Linked DNA regions of Homo sapiens: region 1 is linked to region 2. The links come from fine-mapping of genetic effects on gene expression. A gene starts in region 2. The other region holds a variant in brackets. All regions are shown on one strand. Distances are from middle to middle.

What was found. PIP is the estimated chance that this variant, and not a neighbour inherited with it, causes the effect.
Region 1: its variant is fine-mapped to the expression of NMUR1 in whole blood (TOPMed, PIP 0.93).

Annotation. Positions count from the first base shown.
Region 1 is chr2:231,405,566-231,421,274 of GRCh38, reverse strand. It overlaps LOC124907997 (a long non-coding RNA gene), which reads right to left and starts at 8,979. Exons shown (of 2, transcript XR_007088118.1): 1 at 8,350-8,979; 2 at 6,811-7,299. RefSeq lists enhancers at 2,334-2,835, 6,042-6,801, 6,802-7,562, 9,657-10,261, 10,262-10,867 and 1 more and a silencer at 8,773-9,112. The variant C/T (reference allele first, on the strand shown) is at 6,299.
Region 2 is chr2:231,524,180-231,539,888 of GRCh38, reverse strand. It overlaps NMUR1 (neuromedin U receptor 1), which reads left to right and starts at 9,444. Exons shown (of 3, transcript NM_006056.5): 1 at 9,444-9,530; 2 at 10,872-11,766; 3 at 14,464-15,709. The coding sequence starts at 9,528. The coding sequence ends at 14,846. LOC105376787 (a long non-coding RNA gene) reads right to left here and starts at 7,719. Exons shown (of 4, transcript XR_001739928.2): 1 at 7,050-7,719; 2 at 5,275-5,397. RefSeq lists silencers at 1,365-1,565, 9,187-9,616 and enhancers at 3,714-4,215, 7,758-8,492, 10,982-11,508, 11,509-12,036, 13,142-13,643.

The DNA.
Region 1 (15,709 bases), 120 kb after region 2:
TAACAGCCTCAGCCCTCCTAGTCCCCAGAGTGAGAGGAGCGGGGCCAAGAAACAAGCACTTTTAGCAACACCAAGGGCTTCAAAAGTTCTGTCTGGAGCAAGAACAGGAGCCAGCCTGGGACTGGGGTCTCCGTAGGCCACTGCTTTTCCTCCAGCGCCAGTGAGGTGAGGCTGGCACTCAGGCTGGTCAAGGAATGCAGAGGAAGACAAGTCCCCCATTCATCCCCTGAAAAGGGGGCTGCACCTGGCGCAGGAGTGTGTCCAGGCTGCTGGGGTGCTGGGGCCCTGCCCTCTCCTTCACCCCCAGATTTCAGTCCAGATGACCCTTTATGAGCTCATGCTCTTTGTCTGCTACTTTTTTTTTTTTTTTTTTTTTTTGAGACAAGGTCTTGCTCTATTGCTCAGGCTGGAGTGTAGTGGCACGATCATAGCTCACTGTAACCTTGAACTCCTGGGCTCAAGCGATCCTTCTGCCTCAACCTGCTGAGTAGCTAGGGCTACAAGGGTGCACCACCGCGTTGGCTGATTTTTGAATTTTTTGTAGAGATGGAGTCTCACGATGTTGCCCAGGCTTGTCTGGAACTCCTGGGCTCAAGGGAGCTTCCCAAAGTGCTGGGATTACAGGGTGAGCCACTGCACCCAACTGCCTGCTACTTCTTGTTTTATGGAGGTCCTTTTGGTTTCTCTTTTTTCCTTTTTGAGACAGGGTCTTGCTCTGTCATCCAGGCTGGAGTGTAGTGGTGCAAACATGGCTCACTACAGCCTCGACTTCCTGGGCTCAAGCGATCCTCCTGCCTCAGCTTCCCTGATAGCTGGAACCACAGGTGTGCACCACCACGCAGGGCTCATCTTTTAAATTTTTTGTAGAGATGGGTCTCCCAGGCTGGTCTTGAACTCCCAGGTTCAAACAATCCTCCCACCTGGGCCTCCCAAAGTGTTGGGATTACAGGTGTGAGCCATTGTGCCCAGCTACTTCTTGTTTTTTAATTTTAAAACACATAGGTCGAAATTGTTTTGTTTGTGTGTGACTTTAGACACACATTGTTCAATCTAGCACACCTACCATTCTGAGTTACCTGGCTCCTCCTAGCTTTTCTGTTTAAGTTGGCTTATCTTTTCCTGGCTATCTCATTCCTTTACCTTTATTATTTCACTTCTGTATCTTTTTTTTTTTTTTTTTTTTTGAGACAGAGTCTCTCTCTGTCGCCCAGGCTGGAGTGCACTGGCGCGATCTCGGCTCACTGCAAGCTCCGCATCCCGGGTTCACGCCATTCTCCTGCCTCAGTCTCCCGAGTAGCTGGGACTACAGGCGCCCGGACCGCGCCCAGCTAATTTTTTTTTGTATTTTTTTTAGTAGAGACGTGGTTTCACCATGTTAGCCAGGATGGTCTCGATCTCCTGACCTCGTGATCCACCCGCCTCGGCCTCCCAAAGTGCTGGGATTACAGGTGTGAGCCACCGCGCCCGGCCCACTTTCGTATCTTTTTTTCCTTGAATTTTGCACGTCCTTTGGCAATTTCAACCCTTGGGTATTTTAGCTGAATTACGGTTTATCCTTTTAATTTTTGTGCATCTGGTTTCCTCTGTGTCAAATTACTTACTTCGGTGGAGGATCCTGGGGTGGAGGGAACACGAAGCTTCTCCCTCTGACTCCGCTGCAAGGTCCCCAACCCCAACATCAGAGGGAAGGGCCTGACCCCACAGGTCTTGGGGGACAGCCACAGTTAGCCCTACCATGCAGCACGTGCCCTAAGGGAGCCTTCTGGTCCACAGCTGGTCAGCAATGCCCCTGAGTTACTCAGGGGGAACCTAGATGGTCCTAGAAGGGTCAGAGGCACCAGTGGTGGGTGAGCAACAGTAACCTGTGTGCAGAGTCAATGACACTGACGAGAAGGTAGTGGGTGAGGTTCAGCCGTGGAGGGAATCACCCAGGAGACAAACCCAATGGGTATTATCACCCAGGATAATTTGAGAAGAGAAGGCCGGATCTGCCCCTGACAGGGAGACCACTGATCAATAGTGAAGCAGGATAGTTCCTTGAGCCCTTCTCAGGACTTTGGACAGGGGTGCCTAGTTTACTTAGCCCACTGCTCTCAACTGCTGGTGGGAGGGAGCACACAGCAAACGAGGCGGGAACTGGAGCGCAGGAGTGCTGGAACCAGCCAGCTGTTTCAGTGCGGGCGGGATCAGACTCCACTCTCTCAGATCCACCGCATTCCGACCCTCGTGAAAGGGAGCACACAGTTGAGCAGGTGCAGGAGCTGGAGCGAGCGCTTTTGGGCGCCGGCAGCAGTGAACTTCGTTCAGGCCCCACAACAGCGTCCAGGCAGGGTGCCTGCGACTCCCGGGGCCCCGGAGGCCATGTTAGAGTGCTCTTTTAGCTCTGCTGTCCACGGACGGCTTAAGTGTTAACAGCTCTCAGTGGGCCCATGGCTGCCCTCTGCTAGCGAGGGCGAAGGGCCAGTGTGACAGCCTTTCGTATCCACACTTGTGGCTCCTAAGCTCTTGTCCGGCATCCAGGAAAAATGAGGTCACACGAACGAATTGAAGGATAGTAAATGTGGGAGATTTTATTGCCAATGAAAATGGCTCGGTTTGGGCACCGTGGCTCACACCTGTAATCCCAGCACGTTGGGAGGCTGAGGCGGGCGGATCACGAGGTCAAGAGATGGAGACCATCCTGGCCAACATGGTGAAACCCCATCTCCACTAAAAATACAAAAATTAGCTGGGTGTGGTGGCGCGTGCCTGTAGTCCCCGCTACTCGGGAGGCTGAGGCAGGAGAATTGCTTGAACCTGGGAGGCAGAGGTTGCAGTGAGCCGAAAATACAAAAATTAGCTGGGCCTGGAGGGCATGTGTCACTGCACTCCAGCCTGGGCGACAGAGTGAAACTCCTTCTCAAAAAAAAAAAAAAAAAAAAAAAAAAGGCTTTCAGTGGGAAGGGGAGCTGTTAAGGGGGATGTGGGGTAGGTAATCTTCCCCTGAAGTCCGGCCATCTTTGGCAGATTCTTTTTTTTTTTTTTTTTCCCGCCTCATGTCCCTGTCAGTAGGATTTAGGAACAAATGAGGAGCCAAATACCTGAAAGCTATGAGACCAGGATAGCAAGGCGGCTTCTGGCTACAATGCAGTTTGTGGGATTCAGGGGTAATTTAACTGTGCTCTATTTGCTGGCTTTGGGATCAGTGTTATATTAATTTCATACAATGAATTGGAGAGCTTGTCATTTTTTGCCATGGCAAAAATGGGCTCATAGGCTAGAACTAGTTGTTTCTTGGGAGTTTGAAAGACCTTACTGCCTGAAAGAACTTACTGCCCAAATGGTCTCCAGAGACTCTGGGAAGGTGACTGATAACTCTTTCCAATTGTTCCTGGATTATGAGAGCATATGGGTTTTCTTTATTTTTAGAGACAGGGTCTGGCTCTGTCGCACAGGCTGGAGTGCAGTGCGATGGTCACAGCTCACTGCAGCTTTGAATTCCTGGGCTCAAGTGAGCCTCCTACCTTAGCCTCCCTAATAGATGGGAGTACAGGTGTGTGCCACACCTGGCTTCCTTTCTTTTTGACTCTATTCCTTTTGTTTATTTGAACCATACTTTTCTTTTTTTTTTGAGACAGAATCTCACTATGTCACCAAGGCTGGAGTACAGTGGCACAATCTCGGCTCACTGCAACCTCTGCCTCCCGGGTTTAAGCAATTCTCCTGCCTCAGCCTCCCAGGTAGCTGAGACTACAGGTGCATGCTACAATGCCTGGCCAATATTTGTATTTTTAGTAGAGATGGGGTTTTTCCATGTTGCTCAGGCCACATACTTTTCAACAAGATTTAAAATCTACTCATGGCAGGGTGTGGTACCACATGCCTGTAGTCCTAGCTACCCAGGAGGCTGAGGCAAGAGGATCGCTTGAGCCCAGGAGGTCAAGGCTACAGTGTGCTATGATCGCTCCACTGCCCTCCAGCCTGGTTCGACAGAGCAGGACTCTGTAAAAAAAAAAAATTAATTTTAAGAATAAAAAATTAAAAATCTATTCATATATGAATTATAATTCTTATACTTTTACACTTTAAACTGCATTTAATTAACTTGCTAATTACACTTGTCTTTCATTAAATTTGGCATAGGTTTAGCTATTTTAATGCTTTTTTAAAAAAATAACCGACAATTTATCTACTCCTTTCAAATTCATTAAATTTGACTCATCTCTCTTATGTCTTTATTATTTCTTTTTTCTGGTTTTGTTTTACTCTGCTTTAAAGTTCTTTTCTGGGCTGGTCGTGGTGGCTCACACCTGTAATCCCAGCACTTTGGGAGTCCGAGGCGGGCAGATCACCTGAGGTCAGGAGTTCAAGACCAGCCCGGCCAACATGGCGAAACCCTGTCTCTACTAAAAATACAAAAATTAGCTGGGTGTGGTGGCAGGTGCCTGTAATCCCAGCTACTCAGGAGGCTGAGACAGGGGAATCACTTGAACCCAGGAGGCGGAGGACGTTGCAGTGAGCCAAGATCACACCACTGCACTCCAGCTTGGGTGACAGAGCAAGACTCCGTCTCAAAAAAAAATAAATAAATAAAGTTCTTTTCTGGCCCAGCGTGCTGGCTCGTGCCTGTAGTCTCAGCACTTTGGGAGGCTGAGGTGGACAGATGAATTGAGCTCAGGAGACTGAGACCAGCCTGGGCAACATCGCAAAACCCTATCTCTACCGAAAATATAAAAATTAGCTAGGCCTGGAGGGCGTGCCTATAGTCCCAGCCACTGGGGAGGCTGAGGTGGGAGGAGCTCTTCAGCCTGGAAGGCAGAGGTTGCAGTGAGCCAAGATGGTGCCACTGCACTCCAGCCTGGGCAATGGAGTGAGACCCTGTTTCAAAAAAATAAATAAATAAAAATAAAATTCTTCTCGTGCAATGTTGAGTTGAAACATTAGTTCACTTGTTTTTATTTTTATTTTTACAATAATGAATGCATTTATAGTTGTTAAATTGGGCAATGTTCAGCAGCTACAGCCTTAAGCCCAAGGCCTGACACGTAACACCCCTTGAAGTCAAAATGAGGTAAACTGACATTATTCCCTTAAATATAATTATGTGGTCTTCCCGATTTCAAAACAATGAACCATTATAGTTTTTACTTTCTCTTTGACTCAACAGTTATTTAAGAAACAGGCTAGGATTTTTGTCATTGTTCTTGTTTGGTTTAATTTTGTGGGTAATTTCTGATTTACCGTATATTGTGGACATAGAGTTTGGCCTGTTTAATTTCTGCCTTGGGGGATAGTTGATGTTGTCTTTCCTTCTAATACACATACATGGTAAAGGTTTCATATGCAAAAAGAAGATACAAGCTGTGTGTGGTACAGAATTTGATACAGATCTTTGATTCAAACTACTCATGGTATTGTTTGGGTCTTTGATGTCTTTGGTTTATTTTCATTTTTATTTTTTTTGAGAGAGTCTTGCTCTGTTGTCCAGGCCAGGCTGGAGTGCAGTGGTGGAATCTAGGCTCACTGCAACCTCTGCCTCCCGGGTTCAAGAGATTCTTCTGCCTTAGCCTCCCAAGGAGCTGGGATTACAGGTGCATGCCACCACACCCGGATAACTTTTGTATTTTCAGTAGAGATGGGGTTTCACCACGTTGGTCAGGTTTGTCTTGAACTCCTGGCCTTAAGTGATCCACCCACTTGGCTTCCCAAAGTGCTGGGATTACAGGCGTGAGCCACCCTGTCTGGCCTGATGTCTCTGATTTTGGTAAGTTAAATCTCTTCTAGGTTGTTAAATAGTATGTTAAAGACTCACTATATTTGTGTTTCTGGCAATATCTCTTTGTACTGCCAACATTTTTCTTTTTTTCTGAGTGTTTAGGTTTTTTCTTTTTAACACAACATCCATTTATTTTGCCACAGTCCCACAGGTCAGGAGACCAGTACAGCATGGCTAGGTTCTCTGTCCAGCTGCATCCCTCCCCTGGAATTTAGGGTCCTCTTCCAAGCTCATTTCTATTACTGGCAGAATTCAGTATGAAGTTCCCATTTCCTTGCTGGCTGCCAGCCAGGGGCTGCTGTTAGCTTCTAGAATTTGCTATCATTCCTTGCCACCTTGTCCCTCAGTCTTCAGGTCAACAATGGCATGTGAATTCTGCTTCTAGTCTGACTTCTCCTTCTGCCACCAGTGGGAGAAAGCTCTCTGCTTTTAAGGTCTCATGGGATTAGATGAGGCTCACCCAGAATATTTCCCTATTTTAAGGCTAATTGTGCCATGTAACCTAAGCTAATTACAGAGGTGACATCTCATCATGTGCACAGA[C/T]GGGTTCCAGGGAGCCAGGCAGGACATCTCTGGGGTGCTGGATTTACTGTGCTGCACACTAGAGAAGGTACATTTTTATCAGACACCCTCTATTTTCTTTTTCTTTTTTTTTTTTTTTTTTTGTTTTTGAGATGGAGTCTCACTCTGTGGCCCAGGCTGGAGTGCAGTGGCGTGATGCCGGCTCACTGCAACCTCTACCTCCCGGATTCAAGCAATTCTCATGCCTCAGCCTCCCGAGTAACTGGGATTACAGGGATGTGCCACCATGCTGGGCTCATTTTTTCTATTTTTAGTAGAGACAGGGTTTCACCAAGTTGGCCAGGTTGGTCTTGAATTCCTGACCTCAAGTGGTCCACCCACCTCGGCCTCCCAAAATGCTGCGATTATAGGCATGAGCCACCGCGCCCAGACCCACCTCTATTTTCTAAGTGCTAAACAACATGGCTCCAAAGCATAACTGAAAAGCAGGTTAGTTGCTCATCGCATGCAGAGTCCAATGAACAAGCGCGAGGTCTGGTGTAAGAAAAGTGAATGTATTCCAAAGGTAGCTTGGGGAAGGGACACAACGCGTCCTGCCTTTACATGTGCTGCTTCACCTTTGGAGCAGTAACATGGACACTTTTATAAGGTCGGGGGTGAGCAAGTATGCAAGGCAGGCGTTCCCCTGTTGCCCCGTATCTTATCTACTGGATAATTGAGTTGGTGCCTTCCCAGGCAGAAATAACTTGTAAAAGTGGCCAAGCGGGAATGCTTTCGACATACCCTCCTGGAGGATGAAGGTCACTTCCAGTTTGCAGAGCAGAAGTTCTAAGGTCACCCCATGGAGGTAAAAGTTCCGTGGCAGGTACGCTTCAGTCTGGAAATCAACTGTCAGCAAATCGACTGTCAGCTCTCAAGGAAAAGATCTGTCTTGGAGCCGTTGAAGAAATTGCCCTGAAGGGAATTACCCTGAAGGGAATGTCTAGGGGGAGGTGAACGGTTACATTTGCATTTCTGAAGGGCTGAGTAGGAAACGGGAAGGAGGGAAAGGGGAGAGAATAGAAAATAATAATTAAAAAAAAAGTAATTCATTCCGTTTTTCTTAGAAAAAATGGGAGCATTTGGTTACAAAAATACATAAAATCTAGCAAGAAACATTCGACTAGGTCTGCGGGAGCTGAGCTATCTGAGCTGAGCCTGGCCTCCCCATCAGCGCTTAGCAAATTGCAGGTGGTCTTAACAAATTGCAGGCAGTCATGGTGGACAGGCAGCTGTTTCCAGACTTGCCTCCATCCTCCAGACCCTAGCACGTGTCTGAGTGGTGGCTAACATGCAGCTTTTGCAGTCAGGCCACCTGAGAGCAATCTCAACCTGCCCCTTTCCAGCTAGGCAGCTCCAGTATGGGGAGTGGCTGTTTTATATTTCTGTCCTGCATCAGCCCCTGAGGCAGGCATCCCTGTACTTTCACTTCTGTGAGCCCACACATCTCCTTGCTGGTCGCAACCAGTTCGAGCAGACTTTCTTTTTTCCTTTTCTTTCCTTCTTTTTATTATTATTATTTTTTTTGAGACAGGGTCTCATTCTGTCACCCAGGCTGGAGTGCATGGGCACTGTAACCTCAACCTCCCAGGATCCTCCCATCTCAGCTCCCCTCCGCAACCCTCAGTGGCTGGGACTACAGGTGCTCATGCCACCATGCCTGGCTGATTTTTGTACTTTTTTGTAGAGGTGGTGTTTCACCATGTTGCCAGGCTGGTCTCAAACTCCTGAGCTCAAGCGATCTGCCCATCTAGGCCTCTTAAAGTGCTGGGGTTACAGGTGCGAGCCACCAAGCCCAACTGAGCAGAATCTCATGTCACTTGAAACCAAACATATCCTTACCATCGTTGGCTTTATATATTAAGATTTTATGAAAAAATGATTATTGTGTCATTTGTCTATGAGATCAGATACTAAACAATTAGAACAGCAAACTGTATCCTGCTATCCAAGGCCTTAGTTCTGACCTCACCAGGCCTCTGAGGGTGGGCCCCCAGTAGGGATTTTTGAGGTCCTGAAGGGGCTGCACTCACCTCCCTGGCCGGTGAAACAAGATCATTTCTCCTTCCCTGGTAGAGGCCCCTAAGGTGGCCCTGAGGGTCTCGAAGCCCCCTCACTCCCTCCGAGGCTGTCGGGATCTCGCACATTTCTCCTAAGCCTCAGGCCTGAGCTTGGTGGAAAGGCTCACGGAGGAAAGTCTTCCTTACACAGATGAGCCAGAGAAAGGAACGAGCAGCCCCTGGAATCTCAGTGCCAGGAAGCAGTTCCTGTTAACAGCTTGGTGTGGCGCTTTCCAGCTTAAATCCGCATAAAAAAGATGCCTTGGGGTACAAGTAATGGAGTTCCAGATTTCACACAACCTGCTCAAATCGTGCAGTCTCCCATCCACCTCAGCGTCACGATGCCCCCGGCGGTCAGTTGGGGGCGCTCCCTGCCCTCTTCTGGGATTGCCAGGGCGGGGACTCACCCAGCCCTCCAGCCCGGCCAGCCCCTTGCTCCTCGCGGGGCCCCGCCCCGACCCGCGGCCCTGCAGCCGGCACTGGGAGGTCTACGCCGCCTTACCCCACGCCTCGCGCAGCTCCGCGGGCTGGTCTCGAGGGGAGATGCCCTCGCTCGGGGCGCGCACCGGGTGGCGCCGAGATGCCCACCTCCTCCGCAGGCCCCCGGGATCCATCGGATGCCACCCCCACCACACACACAGGGCTCCCCCACCCTCGACAGCCGAACGCGTTGTCCCCTGCACAGCCCAGGCGGGTTCCGCGAGGGGCTCTGGGTCGCACCGCGCCCCGGGACGCCCGCGCCCACCCAGCAGCTCCTGGCTGCCCGGCGACGAGGAGCCGCGGGGGGCAGGCGGAGCCCGAGGGGGGCAGCTTCGCCATGGGTGAGGGCAGGGATTCCACGCATTCCTGTGGGATTCGGCCGCACCGAGGAAAAACAAAGCCAAGGTGATTTGTGATAGGTCACAGGCTGCACGGCAGGGTCAGTCAATCCCAGCCCAGGCCGGTAGTTCCCAACTTGAGTCACCTGGGAGCGATAAAAAATGCCTGGGCTCGCGCCCCACCCACTCACTCATTCGGATTCATTCTGTCTGGTTGCGATCTGGACTAGATATTTTCTCAAATTCCCGGGGGGCAAAACCCTCTAAAAGGATTGAGCTCTAAGCTTTGGCTCACTTTGGAAGGGTCTTCAGTGAGTATACAATGTATTCCAAGATTCAAGTTTTGTTTTAGAAATATAAGCAAAAATTGCATTCTGTTCGATAATGTATCTGTGTTCATTTTCACATAAAGGCAATTGGTAAAAGACAATTTTCAGAAAAAGGTAGATTCATGACCCTTGTTCAGAAATAAAAAATGAGCATGTATTAAAGATTTATTTTACTCATAAAAAGGACAAGGTAGATGTTATATCTGGTTCAAAGGAGACATCAAAAAGCACAAATTTATATGGAGTGAAGGAATTGAATTGCAAACAGCGGCAAACTGGTTTTTCCACCGTGGGGGTGTTGGTGGGGGGTGGAAGAGAAGTCAATGGAAGCTTCACCTGACAAGACAGTTTGCAAAGCCCTCAGTACTTGCAACTTAAAAAGAGGTGCAAAATAGCTCAAAGACCGTGAATGGGGCTGGAAGCAGACAGGTCTGGCTGTGCTTTAGATAATGTATAGTGTTTCACTGGAACAGAAAAGTTTTTCTTCACAATAGCTTAAATAACTCTCTGGAAACATTTATTTCTTACAGCCCTAATAACGCTGGGCTCCCCCAACCATCACAGTTTCAATCGCTCATTGGACATAACATTTTCCTCCTTTTAGACAGAAACAACAAACACAGATATTTGTGACTAAGTTACTGCTAAGGAAAAAGGATGGGAGGCTGGAGGCTCTTGGGAGACAGTAGAGTATGGGGGTTAGGTGTGCAGGGCACAGAGTTCAAATCGTGCCTGTCACACAATAGCCGTGGGATCCTTCTCTTAGAGCCCTCCATTTCTTACTTTGAACATGGTGTATAACAGGATTCCAGAAGCTTCCCCCTGCTCCTTCTCAGTTTAGGTGCACAGAATAAGTCACCTAGGAACAGCTTTCTTTGTTAAGAGTAGGATTCTTTGAGTGGTCTCCTTTAGTTATGTAAATGTGGCTGAGTAGGCACCCATTACCCTGGGGGAAGAGTGGAACTGGACTTTTTGAGGACTGACAAAGGCTACCCCTTTTCAAGGCCCCTTGGAATGCACAGCCAGTTGCCGGGGAGGAGGGAACCATTTTGCAAAGCCAGGGCCTTTGAGGAGGAAAGAGTTAAGACCCTGGGACCAACTAAAATCTACTGTCTAAAAAGTTGCTTCACCAGGCCAGAGAGAACCTGAGTCTGTGGGATTCCCCCACAGACTGTGTAGCTGACTGGGGGGCCACAGGACCCAGCACCCCTGGCATGCTGCTGCTCTCTGGGGAAAGGTCGTTGAGCTTGTGAGGGTGACTGAGAGAAGGGTAACTTTGTTTTGGAAGCATAGGCCCCACCGCAGCCTGTGCAGTGAAGGTAGCCAAGCCTCAGAAGCCACAGGACTGTGCAGGCCCGCTGTTCCACAGCGCCCCTGTGTGGAGAGAGAGGGAACAACTGGAGATGACTGCTCAGACTTTCCAGAGAACCCTCTCTTTGGAGGAGGGAAATCCCTGAGGTTCTTGGACAATTTGAGAGTGGGTTCCAAGAGGCTGATATTGGATTTTTCTGCCAATAATGGTACATGAGGGATTTGAGCAATCAATGAGAAAAATTAAAAAGTAACCATATTTGTACCCTGAGTTAAAGTCATATTGACTACACGTTAAATGTTTACCAGGGTGCCTGGCATATGAAATGTGCTCCATAAAATGTCAGTTGTTATCATTACCAGGAAGCAAAACTAAATGCCTGATTTTCCAGAGTGGGGCCCCACTGGAGCTGGCCAGAATGGGCCAAAGTGCGCCAGAGGGAGGGGTGGAGGTGCCTCAAAACTGCCCTCTGCTCCCTCAGGCTGCCGTGAACCCCTGCTCTTTGTCCCTTTGTGCTCAGGATAAAGTTAAAGTACTCCTGAACCTAGAAGACCTGAGAAACTGCCCTGCCTGCCTCCCAGCCTCCCACCCCTTCTCTCACCCCAGGTCCAGCCCCGAGAGGAGCTCCTTTCCGCTTCAGAATGCATCCACCCTGCTCCCAGCAGCCCTTGGTATATGTGGTTCCCTCTGCCTCATCCTTCAGGGGCAGCTGAACCCATAACCGTCTCTGGGCCTCCACCTGGGCCTGGGTCCTGTGGCCTGTACACCTCCATTTTCTGGGTGTCCCTGGGCTGCCCTCTCCCATGCTGAACTGTGAGCCCCAATCCCCTCTCTGCAGCCCAGAGCAGGACCTGGCTTCTGAGGATGAGGAGGGGCAAATAGGGCTGGCATCACAGTCGCAGGCCTCCCTCAGAAGCTCCCAGCACTTGGTTTAATGCTCAATGCTCTGCTGTGGCAATCTTAAATTCTTTTTTTTTTTTTTTTTTTTTTTGAGACAGTGTCTCGCTCTGTCACCCAGGCTGGAGTGCAGTGATGCGATCACAGCTCACTGCAGCCTCGACCTCCTGGGCTCAAGGGATCCTCCCACCTCAGCATCCCGAGGCAATCTCTGGCAACCTTGGCCCCAGACAGGTGCGTGCCACCACTCTGAGGTAATTTTAAAATTTTTTAAGAAAAAAATTAGCCAGGCGTGGTGGTGGGTGCCTGTAGTCCCAGCTACTCGGGAGGCTGAGGCAGCAGAATGGCGCGAACCTGGGAAGCAGAGCTTGCAGTGAGCTGAGATCGCACCACTGCACTCCAGCCTGGGCGACAGAATGAGACCTCTGTCTCAAAAAAAAAAAATTTTTTTTTTTGTAGAGACAGGGGTCTCTCTATGTTGCCCAGGCTGGTCCCAAATTCCTGGGCTCAAGCCATCCTCCCACCTCAGCCTCCCAAAGTGTTGGGATTACAGGCGTGAGCCTGACCTTTAAAATTCTTAATACCTTTTTAAAACCAGGGTCCTGTAATTTCATTTTGCACTGGGCTCTGCAAATTATGCAGCCGGCTGGCCAAGAGAGAACTGTGGGAAGACCTGTGCTGAGGAGGGAGAAATAGCAGTGTAGCAGGATGAGTCGCAGACAAAACTCCTCAGACACCAGATTAAAGAAGGAAGAGGTTTTTATTCGGCCGGGAGCGTCAGCAGACTCGCGTCTTAAGAGCCGAGCTCCCCGAGAAAGAAACTCCTAGCCCTTTTAAGAGCTTACAACTCTAAGGGGTCCACGTGAAAGGGTCATAATAGATCAAGTAAGCGTGAGGAACGTGACTGGGGGCTACACACATCAGCTAACAGGACAAAAAGTTTTACGGTGCTTTCTCACACAATGTCTGGAATTTACGGATAACACCAGTCGTTTTGGTCAGGGGTTAATATTATTATTATCATTCTAACCACCAGGGCCAGGTGGTGGCGCCAAGGTCGTCTAGCTATTTATCTTACTTCTGTTTCTTTCCAGCTTTTTGCTTTCTCCCTTTTCTCCCGTCTTATAAACTAGGGAAAAGGGGAGGTTGGGGAGAAGCTGGGAAGGACAACAGGAGAAGTGGTGGTCTCATTCCCTATTTCCCCCCTTTGAGAATTTTCACTTTTTAGTGGGAGTTCTCACTCTCATCCTCACTTTTTGAGTCTCTTTGCGAGATAGAGCGATAGTGATTCATATAATTCACGTGTGCTGAAGTTTTCTGATGAACCAAAGTAGCAACAATACCTTTTATCATTTGAAAAAGCAAGGGTAATACACAGGGGAGCAGCAAGCAAGTTCTTATTACTAGCAATACACCTACAATGAGGGTTTTAAATCCTCCTATAGCTGGAAACCATTTTCCAAATAAAGACTCAGGATCAAACTTGTGCCAAACCTGTATAGGCGTGTGTGCCAACTTTGTCATGTCCCTGACTATGTTTTCAATCACCTGTCCTTGATCATCTATTTGTAGGCAGCAATTGGTTAAGTTAAATTTTCCACAAACTCCTCCTTCAGCTGCCAGCAAGTAGTCCAAGGCCAGTCTATTCTGATAGATAGCATTCCTCATTTGGGTTTCCTGCCGAGCTAAAACAGTCAAAGCTCTGCCAGTTTCATTAGTAATTATTTCTAAGACGGTCTGCAACCGTATGATCTGATTGAGCATGTAGATGGGGGTTTGGTATCCCCATGAGCCGTCTTGTACCCATGTGGCAGGCCCATAATATTGTATGATCCTTTCAGGGGGCCACTCATTATCTTTCCAGTTTCCTATAACTATGCCTCTCTTTTCTCGGGAGGTATAGACACGGAAACCTAGGAGCTCACCCGTTTTTATGGGTAATAAGAAAAAGGACAGCTTAATAGTGCCAATAACACAACTGCCTGCCCATTTATTAGGTAACTGAATGTAGGCTGTGTGCCCACATATCCGGTATAGTCCGGTGGGAGCCGTCCAGTCCTGATGAGATTCTGGATGAGCCCAGGCAGTTTTTAATTTAGAAAATTTACTAAATGGGTTCTTTTCAGTGTGGTTTAGGCCCCACCAAGTAATTGTCTTTGTTGTGCTGTTGTACAACTTCTGTCCTATACAATTAAGCTTTTCTACAGGGACGATAAAGTCTTTCCCTTCTCTAGCTATACAGTATTGTCCAATAATTAGGATTTTAGGACCCAGAAGTTGCTAGCTTGGGCCTTCTGAACTGGAATTATATCAGGAGCTGGATCAGTAGGCACCAACTCTCGGGCTTCCCAAGGCCATCGGTCTCCGATAGTGGTTCCCCTGCATACATAACAGGAAGTAACATTAAGGGAAAGAGCTACATTTTCTGCTAATTGGAGAAACAAATTTTTTGTCTTTTTCGGAAGTTCTGGTGCTGGCAGATTCAGCTCCTCATAAAAGGTTTGAAACACTGGTTTGGGAGAGTGCTTGTGGACCTCCCCTCTAACTAAAATGGCAACTTGGGGGTTTATCCCTGTCCCATCGATCCCCAGGGTTACACGTTCTCCCTTTTTCCAACGGGGATCTAGGGGATTGGTAATTATTAGTTCTAGTGGGTTACAGTGACCGGCAGCACAGGAGGGGTTGGCGTCCCCCTTCTGAAGATGAACCAGGTCCTTTTTGTTCTTTTTCCAAGTAGCCCAAATAACACATGGCCAAAAGGCACAATTTTCACAAACCCCTGACTCATGACAAACATATTTATTTTCTACTCTGTAGCTCCTTTCCCAGTTAAGAGAACCACATCCTGTTCCTAGCTTGTTACTATTAATGGCTGCATAAGCATCAAATCTTAAAGTTACTTGTTTGGGGATTCCTTTTTCTTCTGTTCTAGTTATTATTTTACTTGTATCACCTGGGAAAAGGCCAGTTCTTAATCTTCTGTCAAAAACAGTGGTTACAGGGGGCTCAGATGGGTTATAACACACATCAGGTTGGTCATTTCCCGGGCTACATACCTTGTACTGAGTTGCATTATACAATCAAGTTTCTTTTAACGTGCCCATACATTCATAATAACTATAGAACAGAAAGATTGTTTTAATTTGCTGTCCTACGTCAGTGACCTGGTGAATACACTGGGAACAGTCCCCACTTTGAGTAAGGTCAGTTGAAGCCCTTACTGTGTAAGTCCAAAATGTAAGAAAAATGAATCCCACGATGAGCTTCCTCATGCTTTGGCCGTGCGTGGACCAGTCAGCTTCCGGGCGTGACTGGAGCAGGGCTTGTCGTTTTCTTCAGGGTCACTCTGCAAGGGTCCTCTGGGCTTGGTCTTACCTCTGAGGTTTCAGGCACTGCAGGTTTTACACGGCTGTGGTGGATCCAGGCTGGGACTCCTTCTACCTTCACAGCGGTGGGAGTGGTCAGGATGACAGTCTGGGGTCCTTTCCACCGTGGGCACAAAGAGGCTACGTTCCAGTCCTTGGGGAGAAAGGGTGAACTGGGGAGAATAAGCTAACAGGGCATCTCTCATTTACCCAGGCTGAGATTGTTTGTGTAATTTTTCCTAAAGCCTGTAGCTGTCGCTGTAACTCAATTTCACCTAACTCTCGGGGAGTGCCTGGAAGTCCCCGCAATATGGGAGGGGGCCTATAATATTTCATAAGGGGAATATCCTGTTCTTTTAGAAGGGGTACATCTAATTTTAAATAATACCATAGGGAGAGCCTGTATCCATTTTAATCCTGTTTCCTGACATACTTTCCCTTAACTATTTTTGATAGTCCAATTCATCTGCTCTACCTTTCCGGAACTCTGAGTCAGCACGGGAATTCCCCAAGCCCACCAAGGTGGAAGCTCGCTGGTGTCCTCTGCAATGCATAACTGCCACCTTGTGGGGTTTCCATACGGCTTCTAATAATTGCAAGATTTCTTGTTGA
Region 2 (15,709 bases):
TGGAGGAAGTCAGTTATCCACAAACTATCTGATCTTTCAGGGAGACGGTTCTAGCAGGCATGCGGGACACTCTGCTTTCAGAAGCTAAGACAAAGACAAGTCTCTAGGGGGCTAAGACAAGGAAAATTCATGTGGTCTCCAATTTTTCCCTATCACAACAAGGTTATAACTAGTACCACTTATCTCTCTATATTTGAGCTACTATTTATTTATTTTTGAGTTGGGAGTCTTGCTGTGTCACCCAGGCTGGAGTGCAGTGGCATGATCTGGTTCAAGTGATCCTCCTGTCTCAGCCTCCTCAGCAGCTGGGACTACAGGCACGCACCACCAGGCTCAGCTAATTTTTGTACTTTTTGAAGTAGAGTTGGGGTTTTACCACGTTGGCCAGGCTTGTCTCGAACTCCTGACCTCAAGTGATCCGCCCGCCTCAGCCTCCCAAAGTGCTGGGATTACTGGTGTAAGCCATTGTGCCTGGCCTGAGCTACTATTTTTTTCTGTAAATTTCTACAGGTAAAGTTTCAGAGCCAAAAGGATAGACTTCTATATATTGGTAGCTGTTGCTAAACTTGTCCTCTAGAAATGCTGTCATTCCCATGTACAGTGATGGAGCGTGTTTCCTTCTACCTGGGAGCCTGGGTGCTATGAGAAGTGTGTCTATGCAGTGAGTGGGCAACAGCTCAGAGTGAGGATTCAGATTAGGTTAGGAGGGGTCTGGTAGGGGCAGTGATGGTAGCAACGGAAGGTGAATTACACACTGAGGAGGTTGGCCCAAAGAGGAAATATGGCGAAAATAACAGAAGACGAGTTTCTTCCTCTCAGGGAGGTGTCGTAGGGATGAATGCTGTGGTGTCAAATTGGAATTACAGGTACTGATGTCAGTGCATGCTTTTCAACATTTATAGATAGATATAAAAATAAGTATCAGGCTGGGTGCAGTGGCTCACGTCTGTAATCCCAGCATTTTGGGAGGCCAAGGCGGGCAGATAGCCTGAGGTCAGGAGTTTGAGACCAGCCTGGCCAACATGCTGAAACCCTGTCTCTACTAAAAATACAAAAATTAGCCGGGCGTCGGCTGCCCCGTCTGGGAAGTGAGGAGCGCCTCTGCCTGGCTGCTGTGCAATCTTCCAAGTGTGAAGTGACAGCCTTTCTGCAGGTGTACCCAACAGCTCCGAAGAGACAGCGACCATCGAGAACGGGCCATGATGACGATGGCGGTTTTGTCGAAAAGAAAAGGGGGAAATGTGGGGAAAAGAAAGAGAGATCAGATTGTTACTGTGTCTGTGTAGAAAGAAGTAGACATAGGAGACTCCATTTTGTTCTGTACTAAGAAAAATTCTTCTGCCTTGGGATGCTGTTAATCTATAACCTTACCCTCAACCCCGTGCTCTCTGAAACATGTGCTGTGTCAACTCAGGATTAAATGGATTAAGGGCGGTGCAAGATGTGCTTTGTTAAACAGATGCTTGAAGGCAGCATGCTCGTTAAGAGTCATCACCACTCCCTAATCTCAAGTACCCAGGGACACAAACACTGTGGAAGGCCGCAGGGACCTCTGCCTAGGAAAACCAGAGACCTTTGTTCATGTGTTTATCTGTTGACCTTCTCTCCACTATTATCCTATGACCCTGCCACATCCCCCTCTCTGAGAAACACCCAAGAATGATCAATAAATACTAAAAAAACAAACAAACAAACAAAAAAAAACCCAAAAAAACAAAACAAAATTAGCCGGATGTGGTGGTAGGTGCCTGTGATCCCAGCTACTTGGGAGGCTGAGGCAGGAGAATCGCTTGAACCCGGGAGATGACGTTGCAGTGAGCTGAGATCATGCCACTGCACTCCAGCCTGGGTGACAGAGCAAAACTCCATCTCAAAAAAAAAAAAAAGTATCAATATATATGTGTGTATACATACAGTATATATAGTATGTGTGTATATATCTATATATTTATACATACATATATTCCCTAGCTCTGCCCACTGGAGGGTCTGGGAGCAGCAACAACCCAACAGTAATGAGCACACTCAGCACCCAGATCTTGAGCACTGATTTCATTACCACCAGATCTGACCCAGATCTCATGACTATTATTACATATATATATATTTTTTTAAGCAGAGTTTCGCTCTTGTTGCCCAGGCTGGAGTGCAATGGTGTGATCTCAGCTCACTGTAACCTCTGCCTCCTGGGGTTCAAGTGATTCTCCTGCCTCAGCCTCCCAAGTGGCTGGGATTACAGGCAAGCGCCACCATGCCCTGCTAATTTTGTATTTTTAGTAGAGTCGGGGTTTCACCATGTTGGTCAGGCTGATCTTGAACTCCTGACCTCAGGTGATCCACCTACCTCGGCCTCCCAAAGTGCTGGGATTACAGGTGTGAGCCACCATGCCTGTCCTTTATTTATTTATTTATTTATTTATTTTTTGAGACAGGGTCTTGCTCTGTCCCCTACACTTGTGTGCAGTGGTACAAGCATAGTTCACTACAGCCTTGACTTCCTGGGCTTGGGTGATCCTTCCATCTTAGACTCCCAGGTAGCTTGGGCTACAGGCATGCACCACCACACCTGGCTAGTTTTCGTATTTTTGGTAGAGATGGGGTTTCACCAAGTTGCCCATGCTGGTCTTGAACTCCTGGGCTCAAGCAATCTGCCCGCCTCGGCCTCCCAAAGTGCTGGGATTACAGGCGTGATTACAGGCGTGATTACGGGCGTGAGTCACTGTGCCCGGCTGATCTTGGTTTCCATCATTCTCCACTAAAGGAGCCAGAGCTCCTTGGAAAATGGCTTATTCCAGGATAGCCCAGAGAAATAGGAGATGAGCCTAGAACATTGTATTGTGCCAGAAAATACAAAATATTCATAATGACACATCAAAAGGATATACGATCCAACTTGAAGGGGCTCCCACTGGTCAAATCTGGGACAAATCTGAACATCAACACAAATAATGATAATGAATTAGTATCCTTTGAATAGAATAAGAAATCATGGGTCCACATGGATATAAATAAAAGTGATAAGAGGAAGTTTCTCCTTCTAGTCACAGTCAGCTCGGAAATGAAGGGATGATGGGGTTTAGAATCACCATTTGGCAGACCATCATAGTAATAATTTATGCATACAAGAATCATACACAGGCCAAGCACGATGGCTCCCGCATGTAATCCCAGCATTTTGGGAGGCCGAGGTGGGTAGATCCCTTGAGCACAGGAGTTCGAGACCAGTCTGGGCAACATGGTGAAACCTCATCTCTACGAAAAAAATAGAAACATTAGTGGACATGGTGGTGTGTGCCTGTAGTCTCAGCTACGCAGGAGGCTGAGGTGGGAGGATCAGCTGAGCTTGGGAAGTCAGAGCTGCAGTGAGCCGTGATCGCACCACTGCACTCCAGCGCCTGGGTGACAAGCAAGACCCTGTCTTAAAAAAAAAAAAAGTCATAAACAGATGCTAAAGTTCTCCTGGGCATCTTTTTGCAAAATGGTTTTGCCAACCTTATAAGCCTGCTGGGACAAGCTGTCCCCCAACCCTGGGTCTCACAATGCCTTGTGACTCCATTGTGCTCACACTAGCCGTCTGCCACCCTCTCTGAGGCTGGGTGCCTTTGACAAGGGCTTGAATCCCTGAGTGGCAGGGTCATCTGTGGTTTGTTCTGGCTGCTTGGCACCTGGGCTGTCTGCCAGGGGCTGTGGATGACCCACTGGGTGGGGAATCTGCCCCTCCTCCCCTCCAGAAGGCTGCAAGACCCATGCTCACCCCACCCATGCAGCGAGAGTGCAGCAGCAGGACCTGACTTTGTAGCATCCTGTCTCTCACCCCGGGGCAGGGGGTCCAGGGCAAGTGCTTCAAAAGGCGGGGACATGGTCCCAGCCTGGGGCCAGTGTCCACGGGATGCCGGGTCACAGTGCCAACCCTTCTAGCTGCAGCCCCACCGTCTCCCTGCCCCTCCAGCCTTCTTGTTGATTCTGTGAGCTGCCGGATGTTTTTCAGGAAATCCGGCCTAAATCAGCTGGAGCCAGTTTTGATTTTTGAAAACCAAGATCCTTACCTGTTGCAGTAGCTTACACCTGTAATCCCAACACTTTGGGAGACCGAGGTGGGTGGATCACTTAAGGCCGGGAGTTCAAGACCAGCCTAGACAACATAGTGTAACCCCGTCTCTACAAGAAATACAAAAATTAGCCAGGCATGGTGGTGCATGCCTGTAGTTCCAGCTACTTGAGGGGCTGAGGTGGGAGGATCGATTGAGCCAGGCAGGTTGAGGCTGCAGTGAGCCGAGATCGCACCACTGCACCAGCCTGGGTGACAGAGTGAGACCCTGTCTCAAAAAAACAAACAAAAACAAACAAACAAACAAAAAAACAATTCAACAGGAGGATCTTCTGGCACCCTGTCTTTCAGTCTTCACATACCTGGCCTTCTCTTAGCTTTAGGCCAACTGTGCCCATGCTGGTGCCCGCTCCTCCATCACACACCCTCAGTGCACCTGCCTTTGGTCCCCTTTCCCTGTGTCCAGCAGTTGCTGTTGATAGGCCCAGCACTGTGTACTTACCTCCTGATTCAGTCTTTGTTCCTAAGAACACCCCAACCCTAGAAAGACGCATTCCGTATGCATGCACCACTGTCATTTCATCACCACTTTCCGGTTCTTTGATATATTTCCTCCAATTTAATGTTATTCCCTTTGTAATGCTGACCTTCCTCGCACTCTGAATATTTACTGCTTTAGTATCTATTGGCTGTGGCAGCAGCCTGCCTTGGGAACAGGCAATAATGGAGAAGGTTTGGAAAAGAGTTGTTGAACTGACTAAAAGTGGCCTGCTTTTTAAAAAGTGGCACGATGTGCCAGTGATTCTAAACAATGTTGGTGATAAAATATTACTCCTGCCAGGCGGACTGCCTCCTTAACACCTACTCCCTGGTAGGCTACTGCCTATTGGACAGGGGGAACTAATGGTATTCATAGAACACTTCTAAACTCAACCAGAACAGAAGCATTTAGTGGTAAAGAAGCATTATGTCTGCAACTGACTCTCATAGTCCCCCAAAAATATAGGAATCCTTTGTATTATTCTTTCAACTTTCCTGTAGGTATGAAATAATGCTAATATAAAAGGTTAAAAAGGTCAGGGCTGGGCGCGGTGGCTCACACCTGTAATCCCAGCACTTTGGGAGGCCAAGGTGGATGCATCGCCTGAGGTCAGGAGTTCAAAACCAGCCTGACCAACATAGTGAAACCATGTCTCTACTAATTAGCCTAGTGTGGTGTCACGCACCTGTAATAGCAGCTACTTGGGAGGTTGAGGCAGGAGAATTGCTTGAACCGGGGAGGTGGAGGTTGCAGTGAGCTGAGATCACACACACCATTGCACTCCAGCCTGGGCAACAAGAGTGAAATTCTGTCTCAGAAAAAAAAAAAAAAGTTAAAAGGGAAAAGAAAAAAAACTACTAAATCAAACACAGCAAACTGCTGCAGACTAACAAGTTCCTGAGTCCTGATGCTGGTCACCTGTTGCAGGGGGAGAAACTTTTGTTCTGAAACCTCCCTCTGATCATGACTATGAGAATTTATAAATGGGAAGACCCCAAGAGGAGCTTCTGTAACACACCCAAGTGTGGTGTGTTAGCTGGGAAGGCTGGTGGACTTGAGGGTGGCCTTTATTGCTTGGAGGAGTAGGTGCCAGGAGCACCCTGTGGGCACACAATAAGATCTGGCCCCAGTCCAGGGTGGCATGAGGGACACACAGGCCCTAGACATGAGAGACACAGGCTTTTTCTGGCCTTCTCACTGTGTGACTTGAACATGTCCTCCCTTTGGCCACAAGCGGAGGTTGGGGCCTGGTACACAGGCTGAGCCCCTGTGAGGAGGTGACCGGCTCCCTGTGCCCAGCACCCTGCCTGAAGCCTGTGAGCTGGCTGTCTCTGGGAGAGCTCAGGAACAGGCCTCACAGCCCTCAGGGGGCAAGGGGCTAGACAGTCCCCAGTGGTCCCCTCTAGGAGCAGGAGAGGCAGGGGCGATGCTCCCCGGAGGTCTCCTCCGCTGCTGGTCCCCACCGGGCTGCAGGGCCCCGACTGCCTGCACTGTGGCTGGGCTCCCTGCAAGCCTGTGTGCTCCTTTCCACTGGGACTCAGCTCTCCTTCCCGGGGTGCTGGGGACCTTGCCCTTCCAAACCCTACTAAGGACAGCTCCCACCCCAGCCCTGCCTCCCAGCAGCTTTCTGGTATCTTCCAGAGAATTCCAGGCTCTTCAACCCTGCACTGAGTGCTTAAACCCACATTATCACTCTTAATCCTCATGGCATCCCTGAAGGACAGGGGCTATGTTTGTGTTTTACAGGCAAAGAAGCTGAGGCCTGAAGCGCAAAGTGGCTTATCTGAGGCCACGCTGGCAGAATGCGGAGTCTCACTCTGGCCTCACAGCCTCCAAAGCCTGTACTCACCATGTTCCCTGCCTGGCTTGACCATCTCTCCCACCAGTTTCTGTGAGCAGACCAGGGCTGGTGGCTCAGGGAGCATGGGTGCATGATCACACAAAAGCCACGTGGCTCCCTGAGGTGCAATCCCAGCCCCCAAGTTCGGAACCCCATCACCTGAGGGGCCCAGACCATCCTCCTCTAGCTCCTGGCCATGGCCAGGCTGGGACCCCACAGAGCAGAGCTGGGTAGGGAGCTCTCTGACCTTGGGAGGTGCCCAGATGGGTACAGCGACTCTCCCTTGCTTCGGATATTTACTGTTCTTGTTCTCCATGTTTGCCCAATGAAGCCTAGTGATGGGGGTCCTGGGTGATCCCCATTGCCCAGGCTGCAGAACAGTGCCTCCCTCCTGTCCAGAGCTACAGTGTCCCCAAGCTCATCTCATCCTCCCTGCCTCCCCTCTGTAGGCAGTAAGTGGGGTGGGGTTGGGGCGTTTCTGGGGGAACCATGGGCTTGCCAGGAGCTGCGGGTCAGCCCAAGGCTGAGAAGGTTCTGGTTTAAGCCTGGCCTGAGTTTAAGCAGCCCCTCTTGGCTCTCAGGGACTCAGCAGGATGAGGAGGGGATACGGAGCTACTCACATGCCTCTGGCCCCATGAGTCCTGCACACGCCTGGGACTTGGGTGGTATCTCAGCAGCTCCTGGAGGTCCCAGTGGCCCTCCCTGAATGCATTTGCTGTTGTGCAGAGTTGGGTCCTTGGCCCCCTCATCTGGGCAGACGCCCACCAGCCAAGCTTAGATGGATGTGTACACCCAGAAAACTGGGGGGTGCCACCTCAGGACGGAGCAGGAGCAGCAGGATGTCATACGTTTCTGATGGGACACTACCGTGGTGGCCTTGAGCTCAGGCCCGGAGGCCAGGGCCCCTAGGGCCCTCTGCACAGTGCGGAAGTGAGGGCCACAGCCATTGTGGCCACTGAGCCTCTCCTTTTTGGGGGCTGCTCTTTAGCCTTTGATGGCTGCTAATGTTATGTGAATGATGCAACCCGCTGTAGGAATTCCTGACTGGCAAGAGTCATTCTGCCTCTGCAAGGCTAGGTGGGTCCTTCCCCATCCCCTCCAGGGCTGTGTGAACCAAAGGGTCCACGGGGACTTTCGGACTGCTCAGAGTCTGTGCAGAGTGGTATGTGTGTGCGCGTGTGTGTGGTGTGGTATGTGCAGAGTGATGTGTGCATGCATGTGTGTGTATGTGTGTGTACATGCATGTGCGTGTGTGTGTGTGTTCCAGTGAAGGGCTGGGGTCCAAATGCTCCTCACTTGCTAAGAGCAGCCTGTGATGCCACAGTGGTCTCTGATGCTGAGTGATGTCATCCCTCCTTGCCCGTCTGTTGTGCTGGCAGCCCTGTTACTGAGGATTTCTCCTGGACTAGCTCATCAGGGGCTGAGTAGTTAATTCCCAGGGCACCACAGAATCCTTTCTCCCAAGGCCCTGAGGACCACGTGCCCCTGCACTTCCCACAACCGTCCCCTGCCTGGGACTCTGTTTACATGTGGAGTTCCTGGGAAGGCCGGCCTGGTGCAGGCTCCTTGAGGGCCTAACTCCCATCCCCAAGCCCAGACAGTGACTTATGGAATTGGGGGGCAGTGGGGAGGAGGAGGGTGCAGGAAAGCGGGGGGAAGGAGGAGCCTCCAGTTGCCACTAAATGGTGACAATCCCACCCCACATTTCTTGAGTGTTGGCCATGTGCCAGCCCCTGTGCTGAATCTTGACGCTCAGTGTCTCATGTCACCTTCACAATAGTGGCGATGGTGGTTAGCCCATTCTACAGGAAGGGGAACTGAGGCACACAGAGCTTCTGAGCTCACGGTGGCCTCTCGGGGTCCTGTGGCTTTGTAACCTCTCCTGGTGCTCCTCAGTGTGATTCTGGGGCATGGGGCTCTCCAGAGGGCGTTTGTCAAACATGAGGATTTCTGGGCCTTGCCCAGGCTAAGGAGACAAAACTCTGGGCAAAGGCCCCGGAACCAGCATTTTACTCTGTGTGATCCGTCATTTCTAGGGTCCCTAGAAGTTTCTGATGAAACAGCTTCCAGCTAAGGAGCTGATTGCAGGACTAGGGAGTGGGAGCAGGTGAGGCACTGGGATTTGCATGTGGGCAGTGTGGGGGAGCAGGAGGCTGTGGCTGGGCATTCTTAACCCTTCCCTAAATTCCCTCCATCCTTGTCTATACCCCCACCCTTGGTACAGTGATGGGGGCAGAAGAACATTTGAACGGATAAGGGGGACAGTATTTGGGGCTGAGGACAATGGTGAGGAGAGGGTGGCCCAGGGAGGCAGGTGAGGAGTGGGGAGGTCCACCCCCAGGCTAGACTTTGGTGTGCTCTTTTTCAGAAGGCAGTGGGGGGGCCCCAAGGAAGGGTTTCGAGGGGGTGATGGTCGTTGGTGGCTGTGGGAGGATGGACTGGAGGGAGAATAGGGGGCTCTTGCCCAGTCCTGCAGGGCCGAGCGCCTGGACTCAGGGACTGGAGGCCCCGAAGGGAGCAGCGGGTGAGAGGGGCTGCGGAGGCTGCAATCATGGGCCTTGGGACAGAAGAAGAGGCCTGGAGCCTGGGAGGATGAACCGCACCGGGGCATGTCGACTTCAAGGGGCTGGTGGGCCGTCCCTGTCCTTGGAGGTGGGTCTGAATGGGGGGCAGGAGGAGCTGGAGGCCGCAGGGACACCGTGACGGCGTTAAGCTAAACTCAGCACGCTGGAGGGCGGGAATCACATGTGAGCCCCAGGTCTCTCGGGCTCCTCCTCTGCGGCTCTCTGAGGCTCAGTTTTCTCATCTGTAAAACGGGTTGTTGTGAGGGTTCCGTCAGATAACGCTGCTTGTGGAGGTGTCGCCTCCACGCTGCTTGTGGAGGTGTCGCCTCCAACGGCCGCGTCCTCCGCCAGTGCGGGAGGGGGCGCCGCCCGGGCTGCGGGGACTGCACTGCCCCCTGGCGGCGTTCCCGGCCGGACAGGCGGGGCGTCGGGGCGCGGGCTGGGGCCGCTGTCAGTCAGTCCACTGGCTCCCGCGCCGCGTCTGTGTCCGTCGCTCGGAGGGTGGAAGCCGGGGTCTCGCGGGCCGCGGGCCGCATGGTAGGTGCGCAGGCGCCGGCGTGGGCTAGGGCGCGGCAGCTGGGCCGGGGCTCGGTGCGGGCAGGGTCGTCCTAGGGCGGGAAGGGTCCGAGGGCTCCGTCGGGGTGCCCCCCGTCCCCGCCACCGGGGAGCCTCGCAACTTCTCGGGTCATTTGTGTCTTCCGGCCAGGGGCGCCGGGGGGCTGCGGGCTTGCGACCCTTCCTCGAGGACCAGGGCGCCTCCCTTGAACCCGGGCTGGCGCCTGCGCGTTCCCAACTGGTTCCCGAGGCTCCCGCGCTGCTGTGCAGCGGGGGTGAGGGCGGGCGGGAGGAAGGGTGTGGGGCTCAATAGAGGAGAGGGAACCCCAGAACTGGCAGTGCCAAGGGCGTCAAATATGGAGACTGAACAGTTCAGGTGACAGAAAACAGAAAAAAGAATCAACTTGTGGATGAAGCATTTGTAGTGTGTAGCCTTGACACTCCCTCACTTGACTCTCATAGTGACTGGGTCCCCAGAGCAAGGGGGTGATCCCCGTGCCCTTCCGTATGCCAGGCAGGCCCTGTGTTAATGTCTTTAATGGATTAAACTCCCTGGATCCTCCTAATAGGGAAACAGCCTCAGAGAGGTTACCTCGCTAAAGGTCACACAGCCTGGAACTGGGGAGGCTGGATTCGAATCCAGGCAGTTGCTTCCTGAGCGCTTGCTCTTGAAGACCCTGCAATACCAGGCATTGTGCCCATTTTACAGATGCCCAAACGAGTGCCTCATCTAGCATCATTGCTTGAAAGAGGAGACACCCAAGATCTGTCATTTACTCAAAGGTTCCAATAGATCATGAAATTTAAAATCAAAACCCCACGTGTTTTTTTTTTTTTAAATGTAGATTTTTACTTTTTCGTTGTTTGCTTTTTGTTTTTTTGAGACAAGGTCTTTCTCTGTTGCCCAGGCTGGAGTCCGGTGGCACAATCTCCGCTCACTGCAACCTCTGTCTCCTGGGTTCAAACAATTCTCCCGCCTCAGCCTCCCAAGTAGCTGGAATTACAGGCGTGTGCTACCACGCCCGGCTACTTTTTGTATTGTTAGTAGAGACGGGGTTTCACCATATTGGCCAGGCTGGTCTTGAACTCCTGATCTCAAGTGATCCGCCTGCCTCGACCAAAGTGTTGGGATTACAGGTGTGAGCCACTGCACCAAGCTTATTTTTACATCTCTGACTTGTGGATGGAAGAGTTTTTTCTTTCTCAGTGGTGCCTAAAATAATGGTCATCATAGCGCTAATGTCACCTTTGGCTTGATGAGTGAGGACAGAGCCAGCATTCCCTGAATGATCTTTCTGGGCATCTCTCCCCTCTGTTCCACAGACTCCTCTCTGCCTCAATTGCTCTGTCCTCCCTGGAGACCTGTACCCAGGGGGTGCAAGGAACCCCATGGCTTGCAATGGCAGTGCGGCCAGGGGGCACTTTGACCCTGAGGACTTGAACCTGACTGACGAGGCACTGAGACTCAAGTACCTGGGGCCCCAGCAGACAGAGCTGTTCATGCCCATCTGTGCCACATACCTGCTGATCTTCGTGGTGGGCGCTGTGGGCAATGGGCTGACCTGTCTGGTCATCCTGCGCCACAAGGCCATGCGCACGCCTACCAACTACTACCTCTTCAGCCTGGCCGTGTCGGACCTGCTGGTGCTGCTGGTGGGCCTGCCCCTGGAGCTCTATGAGATGTGGCACAACTACCCCTTCCTGCTGGGCGTTGGTGGCTGCTATTTCCGCACGCTACTGTTTGAGATGGTCTGCCTGGCCTCAGTGCTCAACGTCACTGCCCTGAGCGTGGAACGCTATGTGGCCGTGGTGCACCCACTCCAGGCCAGGTCCATGGTGACGCGGGCCCATGTGCGCCGAGTGCTTGGGGCCGTCTGGGGTCTTGCCATGCTCTGCTCCCTGCCCAACACCAGCCTGCACGGCATCCGGCAGCTGCACGTGCCCTGCCGGGGCCCAGTGCCAGACTCAGCTGTTTGCATGCTGGTCCGCCCACGGGCCCTCTACAACATGGTAGTGCAGACCACCGCGCTGCTCTTCTTCTGCCTGCCCATGGCCATCATGAGCGTGCTCTACCTGCTCATTGGGCTGCGACTGCGGCGGGAGAGGCTGCTGCTCATGCAGGAGGCCAAGGGCAGGGGCTCTGCAGCAGCCAGGTCCAGATACACCTGCAGGCTCCAGCAGCACGATCGGGGCCGGAGACAAGTGACCAAGATGCTGTGTAAGTGTCACGGCTGGGAAGAGGGGCTGAGCCAGGCACTGGGTATGAGTTTGGGGCTCCTGGGGCCTGGGAGAAGGGGCTGAGTATCTGGGTTTATGGGGGACGAGGAACTCCTCTAGTCTCGTGTGTGTGTGTGTGTGTGTGTGTGTCTGAGTTGCACTCCTGTGTACTCTTTTAGATTACCCTACTAGAATCTTACACCAAAAATACCTGTTAATGGCTAACGGTAAGATTGTGTAATTTGTGGAGTCCAGTGCAACATGAAAATTCAGGGTCCCTTTTTCAAAAATGAATAAGAATGTCAAGACAGCAACAACAGAGCATTAAACCAAGCCCAGGACCCTGCTAAACTTGGGGCCCTGGCTCTGGAACCAAAACACAGAAAGGGCAGGGCATGTGGTTGGGCTCCAGGATGACAGAAAATGGGATCTGGACCCTCCAGGTCTCAGGTCTCTCCTCTTCTTTTTTTTTTTTTTTTTTTTTTTGAGACAGGGTCTTGCTCTGTCACTCAGGCTGTGGTGTGACCACGGCTCACTGCAGCCTCAACCTCCCAGGCTCAAGCGATCCTCCTACCTCACTCAGCCTCCTAAGTAGCTGGGGCTACAGGCAGGTGCCACCATGCCCAGCTAATTTTTTCATTTTTGTAGAGACGGGGTCTCACTATGTTGCCAGAGCGGATCTTGAACTCCTGGTCTCAAGTGATCCTCCCACCTCAGCCTCCCAAAGTGCTGGGATTACAGGCATAAGCCATTGCACCCGGCTCTCTTTGGTTATTAACGTGTCTTGGCCTTGTTCTTCTCGGCAGCAGCCTGTGAGGCATGGCCACCGGCACGCCATCTTCTTTCCTGAGGAACTGCTGTCTTTCCTTAGAGATGAGTGAAAAATCCCAAGAAGGATTCTGATGGGCGTGGCCTAGGTCATGCCCCACCTCCTGAGCCAGAGTGGCAGGATGCCGAGGTGCACAGCCCCCAGTGGAACTACACAGTGAGATCTGGGGGGAGCAAAGTCCCCCAGAGAAGGGGAGGAGGGTGTTGGAGAGGCCAGGTGCTGAATTTCCCCCATGCCATGTCTGCGGTTCCCTGGGAACCGCAGGAGAGACCATTTGTCTAAACAGCCCCATCCCGAGGCGTGTCTGTGAAGGCCGGGCTCAAGGCACAGGGGATCAGGCCAGAGGCCTGCGGATTAGGGCAGGCTAAGGTACTGGGATGAGGCTCTGGATCTCTGTGGCCTGGACCTGGCTCTTTTTCAAAAGCTGTGGCCCTGGGGAAGCAAGACAAACTGATACTAAGCCGATCAAAGATCCGCCCCATCCACCTACCTGCATCCCAGCTCAGCCCCACCTCAGCAGAGCCTGAATCAGGCCAGTGGGGTGAGCCAGGTCAGCAGAGGGCCACTGAGACTTTGGACAGAGCCAGCTAACTGGGGGCCGCCCCATCTCCAGAGTGACTCGCTCCTCTCACCCCTCAGACACCGTCCCAGAGCTCAGTCTCTTGTGCAGCTCCTGAAACGAGGCTGACCCCAGAGCTATGTGCATGCCTCCCAGCTCTGCACGGTGAAGCCTGTGCTCAGGACCAGCTGCCCACTGCCGCCCTGCCTCCTGCCTACTACCCCGTCCCCTCCCTGAAAACATGGGTGGGCAGAGTCTGCAGTAGGTGCTTAGCTGGGGTGGCTCACCCCTGGAAGGTGGGCTTCCTGCTTGCTGGCCTTCTCTCTTCCCTCCCTCCCTCCCTTGTCCACTTTCCGCTGGCCCTCTGTGCACCAGGCCAGGGGCCAGGGAGGTTGTGAGCAACGTCCTTTTTGAAATCTGGGATTATGAGGAAAACCATGCTAGGGTATGATGGGGAAGACACTGCCCAGGAAAGCTAGTGAGTTGCAGCAGCAAACCCAAGAAACAAGGAACAAAAATCACAGCTGACCCTGTGGCAGAGACCCAGGGAAGGGCATAGTTGGGTAAGAACAAGGCAGGAGGGATTTGGGGAGAAAGTGAAGGTTTGCCAAACTCTCCTACCTTTTGTTAGGGAGGGGGTGGGCAAGGGCCTGGCAAGTAAGATGGGGGGCAGGTTAGTGCAGGGCAAGACATTCAGATGGGCCTTGGGGAGCTGGGGGCTGGAGCTGAAAAGGCCGGGGCCAAGGCAGGCAGTGTGTGTGTGTGTGCATGTGTGTGTCTGTGTGTGTGCATGCATGTGTGTGTGTGTGCATGCGTGTGTGTGTCTCACTCTCCCTGGCCCCATGACCTCCGGTCTGCCGCTCTCTGAGCACGTGCCCCATTCTTCTTTTCTGTACTTATGCATCAGCAAGCATGGCCCCCAAGTGGGCATCCAGAGTGGCCCTAGCCCCACAGCTTGTATCACCCCAGAAGCTCAACAGCCACAGCTAAGTGTCACCCAATTTCATATTCCAGGGTGAGAGAATCTGATTGGGCCGGCTGGGCTTAGGTGTCCACACCTGGTCCAGTTGGCTGTGGTCAGAGGCAGGGATATGCCCCATTGCCCACAGTCAGTGACCATGGTGAGGGCAGCCTCTCTGAGAGAGGCATGGCCAGAACAGGCAAATTTCCAGAAACTTCCACCTGGGTGATAGGTGAGGGTGGCCTGTGGGATAGGAGAGGATGTGAAAATGGGTGACCCAAACTGAAGCCCGGGAAGGCAGCTGAGGGGCCTCGGGCGGGCACTCGGCCTCCCTTCTCTGTCCCTGCAGTTGTCCTGGTCGTGGTGTTTGGCATCTGCTGGGCCCCGTTCCACGCCGACCGCGTCATGTGGAGCGTCGTGTCACAGTGGACAGATGGCCTGCACCTGGCCTTCCAGCACGTGCACGTCATCTCCGGCATCTTCTTCTACCTGGGCTCGGCGGCCAACCCCGTGCTCTATAGCCTCATGTCCAGCCGCTTCCGAGAGACCTTCCAGGAGGCCCTGTGCCTCGGGGCCTGCTGCCATCGCCTCAGACCCCGCCACAGCTCCCACAGCCTCAGCAGGATGACCACAGGCAGCACCCTGTGTGATGTGGGCTCCCTGGGCAGCTGGGTCCACCCCCTGGCTGGGAACGATGGCCCAGAGGCGCAGCAAGAGACCGATCCATCCTGAGTGGAGCCTTAAAGTGGCTTCACCTGGAGGGGCCAGAGGGTCACCTGGAGCTGGGGAGACACATCTGCCTTCCTCTGCAGGGATGCCTTCACGTACTGTCCCTAGTTCAGCCTAGAAATTCTGACCAGCACCTCAGTTTCCCTCAGAGGGAAACAGCAGGAGGAGGGATCCCTGACTGCTGAGGACTCACACTGACCAGACGCCACACCTTGTGCTTCTTATCTGTCCACTGCCACTCCCCCAGTTCAAATCCTTACCCTGCAGAAATATCACAGTTAGCTGGGGCTCAGCAGTCCTCCCTCTGGGGACTCCCTGCCACCACTGCCAGTTTCTGAAACGGTCCCACTGGGTCCTCACTGTCCTTCCCAGTTCCTGTTCAGGTTCTGGCAGGGGCCCAGGGATCCAGGGGACCTGGTTCCAATCTCAGCCCTGCTGTCACCACCTTGTCATGCACCATCAAGCATATCAGTCTACCTTTCTTTTTTTCTGAGACAGAGTCTCACTCTGTCGCCCAGGCTAGAGTGCAGTGGCGCGATTTTGGCTCACTGCAACCTCCGCCTCCGGGGTTCAAGCGATTCTCCTGCCTCAGCCTCCCGAGTAGCTGGGACTACAGGTGAGCCCCAGCATGCCCAGCTAATTTTTTTTAATTTTTAGTAGAGACGGGGTTTCACCATGTTGGCCAGGCTGGTCTCAAACTCTTGACCTCAGGTGATCCGCCGACCTCGGCCTCCCAAAGTCCTCGGATTACAGGCATGAGCCACCACACCCGGCCAATCAGTCCACCTTTCTAGGCCTTGGTTCCTTGCCTGAAAAATGAAAGAGGCGCTGGCTTTCCACAGTGTCATGCTTTGGCACTTTAGCTA